2 separate regions of the Homo sapiens genome follow, and region 1 is linked to region 2. A link means that fine-mapping ties the variant in region 2 to the plasma level of a protein whose gene starts in the linked region. Region 2 holds a variant in brackets. A gene starts in the other region. All regions are shown on their reverse strands.

Evidence for each region. A credible set is the group of variants that fine-mapping cannot tell apart. PIP is the chance, under the fine-mapping model, that this variant and not a neighbour inherited with it causes the effect. Protein levels are from antibody-based Olink assays in UK Biobank. Linkage for the fine-mapping came from a reference panel and not from the study's own genotypes, which makes the PIPs less certain.
Region 1: PRSS22 starts here. The variant in region 2 is the best candidate, but not a certain one, in a credible set for the plasma level of the PRSS22 protein (UK Biobank, PIP 0.85).

The regions. Positions count from the first base shown.
Region 1 is chr16:2,856,790-2,859,805 of GRCh38, reverse strand. It overlaps PRSS22 (serine protease 22), which reads left to right and starts at 1,636. Exons shown (of 6, transcript NM_022119.4): 1 at 1,636-1,783; 2 at 2,958-2,984. The coding sequence starts at 1,702. RefSeq lists enhancers at 450-1,049, 1,050-1,650, 1,651-2,251.
Region 2 is chr14:93,217,668-93,220,167 of GRCh38, reverse strand. UBR7 (ubiquitin protein ligase E3 component n-recognin 7) reads right to left here. Exons shown (of 11, transcript NM_175748.4): 7 at 1,433-1,641; 8 at 807-956. Among named protein-coding and RNA genes, the nearest start is that of UBR7, 12 kb to the right of the region's middle. The variant A/C (reference allele first, on the strand shown) is at 1,026.

The sequences.
Region 1 (3,016 bases), not on the chromosome of region 2:
GGTCTGCTAAGCCCCTGACCCACGCCACCCTGACTCTGCAGGGAGCAAGTTAGGGCTCACCCCAGGCAGGGTGAGGCACCTCCTCCAGGCTCCCGAAGCCTCCATGAGGGCAGTCCCAGCAGCCACCCCCAGTGTTGGGGTGCAGGTCCGGCTCCACCACTCACCCAGCAATCTCGGGCAAGTCACTTAACCGCCCTAAGCTGCCTCAGTTTCCTTATCTGCAGAGTGGGAATAATAAAGACATTTGAGGATTAGGAGGCAATGCATGGCACTCCTAAATGTTTGCTCTATTATATAAATACTATATTTATATTTGTATAAATATATTTATTACATACATATTCACTACTATGGTTTTTTTTTTTTTTTTTTGAAACAGAGTCTCGCTCTGTCGCCCAGGCTGGAGTGCAGTGGCGTGATCTCAGCTCACTGCAACCTCCGCCTCCCAGGTTCAAGCGATTCTCCTGCCTCAGCCTCCCAAGTAGATGGGACTAAGGGCGCCTGCCACCATGCCTGGCTAATTTTTTTTTTTTTGTATTTTTAGTAGAGACGGGGTTTTACTATGTTGGCCAGACTGGTATTGAACTCCTGACCTCATGATCTGTCCGTCTTGGCCTCCCAAAGTGCTGGGATTACAGGAATAAGCCACCCCACCCAGACACTATGGTTGTTTTTAATTCACCCCCGGCGGTAGCAAGGGCCCTGCTGGAGGCTTGTTGATCGAATGAGTGAAGGGGCGCAGGCTCCTGCCTCTTTGTAGAGGAGGAAGCCTGCCCTGCTTGGGTGGGAGTGTCCCAAGTGTGGGGCGCTGCAGGGCACTGAGTCAGGGAAGGTCTCACAGGATTCAGCCCCGGGTTGCCACTGTGGCAGCCGCTGGGGGGAAGCACCGAGAATCCACTCCCAGCCCAGGACCCGGCCCCCCACAGCCCAGCCCAGCAGCTCTTTGAATCCTGGGAGTCCCAGCCCTTCCCGGGGCCCCTCTTCTCTCAACCCCCCTGCTTGGCCGAGCCCTGGTGCCCATGGGCTCCTCCCCTTCCCAGGAGTCCAGGTGAGGTGAGTTGTCAGGTGTCTGAACCGCAGGGCAGAGCCCCGCCTCCAGGAACGACAGGAGGGCGGCCACCAGGAGGCCACCAAGGTCGCCACTCACCTGATTCACAGCTTTCGGGAAGTGGGTTAACGGGATTCCCAAGCCCGGGTTGCGCCAGGTCTCTGGGCTGAGTCACAGGGGCCTGGGGCCCTGCAGGTGGGAGCCGTTACTGAGCTTTGGGCACCCCCTTGATCCCTAAGGCCCTAGGACCACCCCCAACACCCAGTACCCCAGACTTCAGCCTCTCCAAACCCAGGCCCTCCCCAGCCCGGAACCCCTTCCTTTCAGTGCCCTGGCACCTTTCTCTGCCCCTGGACAATTAATGTCAGGGACCTCTGGGCCCAAGCCCCCTCCCCTGCCCTTCCAGAGGCCACATCCTGGGGTCTCAGCTAGAGCCCCCCCAGAGCCCTGTAGCGGCTGGCTTCCTCCCCGCAGCCCCGCCCTCTGCCCAGGACCCACAGCCGGGGTGGCCGCGGGAGCCACCTGGGGACTGGTCTGACGGCATTCCGCCTCCCAGGATAAAACCTGGGGCGACCTGCAGGGAACCTACACACCCTGACCCGCATCGCCCTGGGTCTCTCGAGCCTGCTGCCTGCTCCCCCGCCCCACCAGCCATGGTGGTTTCTGGAGCGCCCCCAGCCCTGGGTGGGGGCTGTCTCGGCACCTTCACCTCCCTGCTGCTGCTGGCGTCGACAGGTACGTCCGGAGGCTGCTCCTCCCTCCTCCCTCTCACCTCCACCCTCCTTCCCTCCTTCCCTCCCTCCCTCTCTCCCTCCTGGCCTTGCCTCTCTCATCTCCTTTCCGCTTCTGCTCTGTTTATCTCTTGCTCCTTAACTGCTCTGTGCCTCGGTTTCTTCTACGGCTGTGAGGATGAAACAGAAAACGCAGCAAGTACGCAGCGCGCCTCGGTCTCCAGTTACCGTCGGCGTCGCCATCGCCTGCTCCCTCTCGCCTCCGTGTTCTCCCATCTCCTCGTCCTCCGCTGCTTGCCTCTGGGGAAGCACCGTTTTGTGTTGTTCCTGCCGCAGGAGGTCAGGGGAGGGCACACCAGCGGCAGCAGCGTCCAGAGCCGAGGGGCTCAGGTCTGTGCCTCCCTCGAGGAGCCGGTCCTGGTCCCCGGAAGGCAGGCTGGACGGGAAGCTGCGGGAGGGCAGGGTCACAGCTGTGCAGCCAGGGCCTGGCCAGGCCCCAGGAAATGCCCCGCCGGTAGGGGCCCTGGGGTTGAGAGACTTGAGAGTCTCCCTGGGCACTGGAGGGCTAGAGGTTCCTCACCACCAGGTACTCAAGGGGACCCCCTCCTCACTGGGCGCTGGGACGCCTGCTCACTGGGCGCTGGGACCCCTCCTCACTGGGCGCTGGGACCCCCTCCTCACTGAGCGCTGGGACCCCCTCGTCACTGGGCGCTGGGGACCCCTCCTCACTGGGCGCTGGGGAGCCCTCCTCACTGGGCGCTGGGGACCCCTCCTCACTGGGCGCTGGGGAACCCTCCTCACTAGGCGCTGGGGAGCCCTCCTCACTGGGCGCTGGGGACCCCTCCTCACTGGGTGCTGGGACCCCTTCCCACTGGGCACTGGACCCCTTCTCACTGGGTGCTGGGGGCTTCTCGCTGGGCGCTGAGGGACCCTCCTCACTGGGTACTGGGACCCCTCCTCACTGGGCGCTGAGGGACCCTCCTCAGGGGGTGCTGGGACCCCTCCTCACTGGGCGCTGAGGGACCCTCCTCACTGGGTGCTGGGACCTCCACCTCACTGGGCACTGGGATCCCTTCTTACTGGGTGTTGGGGGCCTTCCTCACTGGGCGTTGAGGGCCCCTCACCACTGTGTCCTGGGGCCCCTCACCGGCCTAACCGTTTCCTTCTCTTGCCCTCAGCCATCCTCAATGCGGCCAGGATACCTGGTGAGTGGAGCTGGCAGCTCTGACGGGAGGGA
Region 2 (2,500 bases):
GAGAATCACTAAAAATGTAATTTTTTTATATTAAGACCTAGAAAAACTGGAGCGTCTTTAACACAGAATTGCTAGAAGGATTTATTCTTTTTGCCTAAATTTCTTTCAGAAATCTCCCAATTTCCCAGATGTCATATGGTCTATGAGATCTTTATTTAAAAACCATTGATTTACTGTTAACTTTTTTTTTTTTTGAGATGGAGTTTCACTCGTTGCCCAGGCTGGAGTGCAATGGCATGATCTCGACTCATTGCAACCTCCGCCTTCTGGGTTCAAGCGATTCTCCTGCCTTGGCCTCCCAAGGAGCTGGGATTACAGGCATGTGCCACCACACCCAGCTAATTTTGTATTTTTAGTACAGACAGGATTTCACCATGTTGGTCAGGCTGGTCTCGAACTCCTGACCTCAGGTGATCGAGACCTAACTTGGCCTCCCAGAGTGCTGGGATTACAGGCGTGAGCCAAAGCACCTGGCCAATTTACTATAACTTTCAACCAGTGTTTCCAAGCAACTTTGATATAACAAAGATAAGTAAACTAAAATTAAAATAAGTAAATTTAAAATACTGCATAATTATCCATTTCTTCCACAAACATTCCAACTGTAAGTACTATGTCATAAATTTGCTTAATGTAAAAATTTGGAGGGTCTCCTAAACATTAATTTCATAAATATATTGTTCAGGTGTTCTTTTTATTTTCCTTTCTTCCTCTGGTACAAAAATTGAATGTTTTCCCCAGGTGTTCTTATTTTGGGGCACCAGTACACAAAACATGCTAACACTGAGCACAATCAGATACTTTACCATACAGTCTTGGCAGGTACACAACTTGCTACGCCAGTTCAGGGGCCAATAGGTGGCAGTGTCTTTCTTTATAAGCTGCTTAGCTTTAAGCTCCTGAAGTTTGCAGCCAGATTTTGATTCTGCGTTGAGGCTTTCATTCTTAAACACTGTCTGAAATAAAATTAAGTTTTGAAGCATGTTTTTTAAACTACCATAGTTTTCATAGTTTAGATTTTGTAA[A/C]GAGATTTCTTTAGGCAAAGGATAAAATTGAAATCCAAAGCCATAAGTTTACAGAATTAATTCCACTTCAGTTTTCTTTTTTTTTTTTGAGACGGAATCTCATTCTGTTGCCCAGGCTAGAGTGCAGTGGCATGATCTCGGATCACTGTAACCTCCGCCTCCTGGGTTCAAGCAATTCTCCTGCCTCAGCCTCCTGAGTAGCTGGGATTACAGGCATGTGCCACCATGCCTGGCTAGTTTTTGTAATTTTAGTAGAGATGAGGTTTACCCATGTTGCCAAGGCTGGTCTCAAACCCGTGACCTCAGGTGATCCGCCACCTCAGCCTCCCAAAGTGCTGGGATTATGGGCATGAGCCACCGCGCCTGGCCCAGTCTTATTTCTTGATGGCTCGTACTTCACACATTACCTGGAGATCAGATTCAGAACTAGAGCCGGCACATGGTTCACTGTTCTGCTCTACTTTAACCTCCCGGACATCATCCTTTCCCTGTTCTGGAACATCCTCTTTGAGGGTACTATCTTGATGCTCTCCATTTTCAGGTTTGATAACTTCCTGATCACCTATTCCATCAATGTTCCGCACCAATCCATCATCCTCAGTGGATATTTTGGTTACTGTGAGTTCAAAGAAAAAGAAAAACACATACACACATATCCACTGACCTAACGGACAATAAAATCCCAACAGACAATAAAATCACTTATTCTATTATTATTATTTTTTTTTTTTACAGACAGAGTCTCACTCTGTCGTCCACACTGGAGTGCAGTGGCATGGTCTTGACTCACTGCAACCTCTGTCTCCCAGGTTCAAGCAATTCTCATGCCTCAGCCACCCGAGTAGCTGGGACTACAGGTGCGTGCCACCATGACTGGCTAATTTTTTGTATTTTTAGTAGAGACGGGGTTTCGCCATGTTGGCCAGGCTGGTCTTGAACTCCTGATGTCAAGTGATCTGCCTGCCTCAGCCTCCCAAAGTGCTGGGATTACAGGTGTGAGCCACCACATCAGGCATACAATAGCTTTTGCTATTTTTTTTTTTTTTTTGAGATAGAGTTTCGCTCTTGTTGCCCAGGCTGGAGTGCAATGGCGTGATCTTGGCTCATTGCAACCCCCACCTCCTGGGTTCAGGCAATTCTCCTGCCTCAGCCCCCTGAGTAGCTGGGATTACAGGCATGCACCAGCATGCCTGGCTATTTTTTATTTTTAGTAGAGATGGGGTTTCTCCATGTTGGTCAGGCTGGTCTGGAACTCCTGACCTCAGGTGATCCACCTGCCTCGGCCTCCCAAAGTGCTGGGATTACAGGCATGAGCCACCACATCTGACCTAAAATCACTTTTTCTGATATTAAAATATTTCAGAATCTGGAAAAAGAGATTAGTCCACCGTAGTCTCCGAAATACTGAGAAAGAAAATTCCAACGCTTCTTTAGGTTATGTCTGCCTAACCCAAAGAATTCAAATAATTAAACAG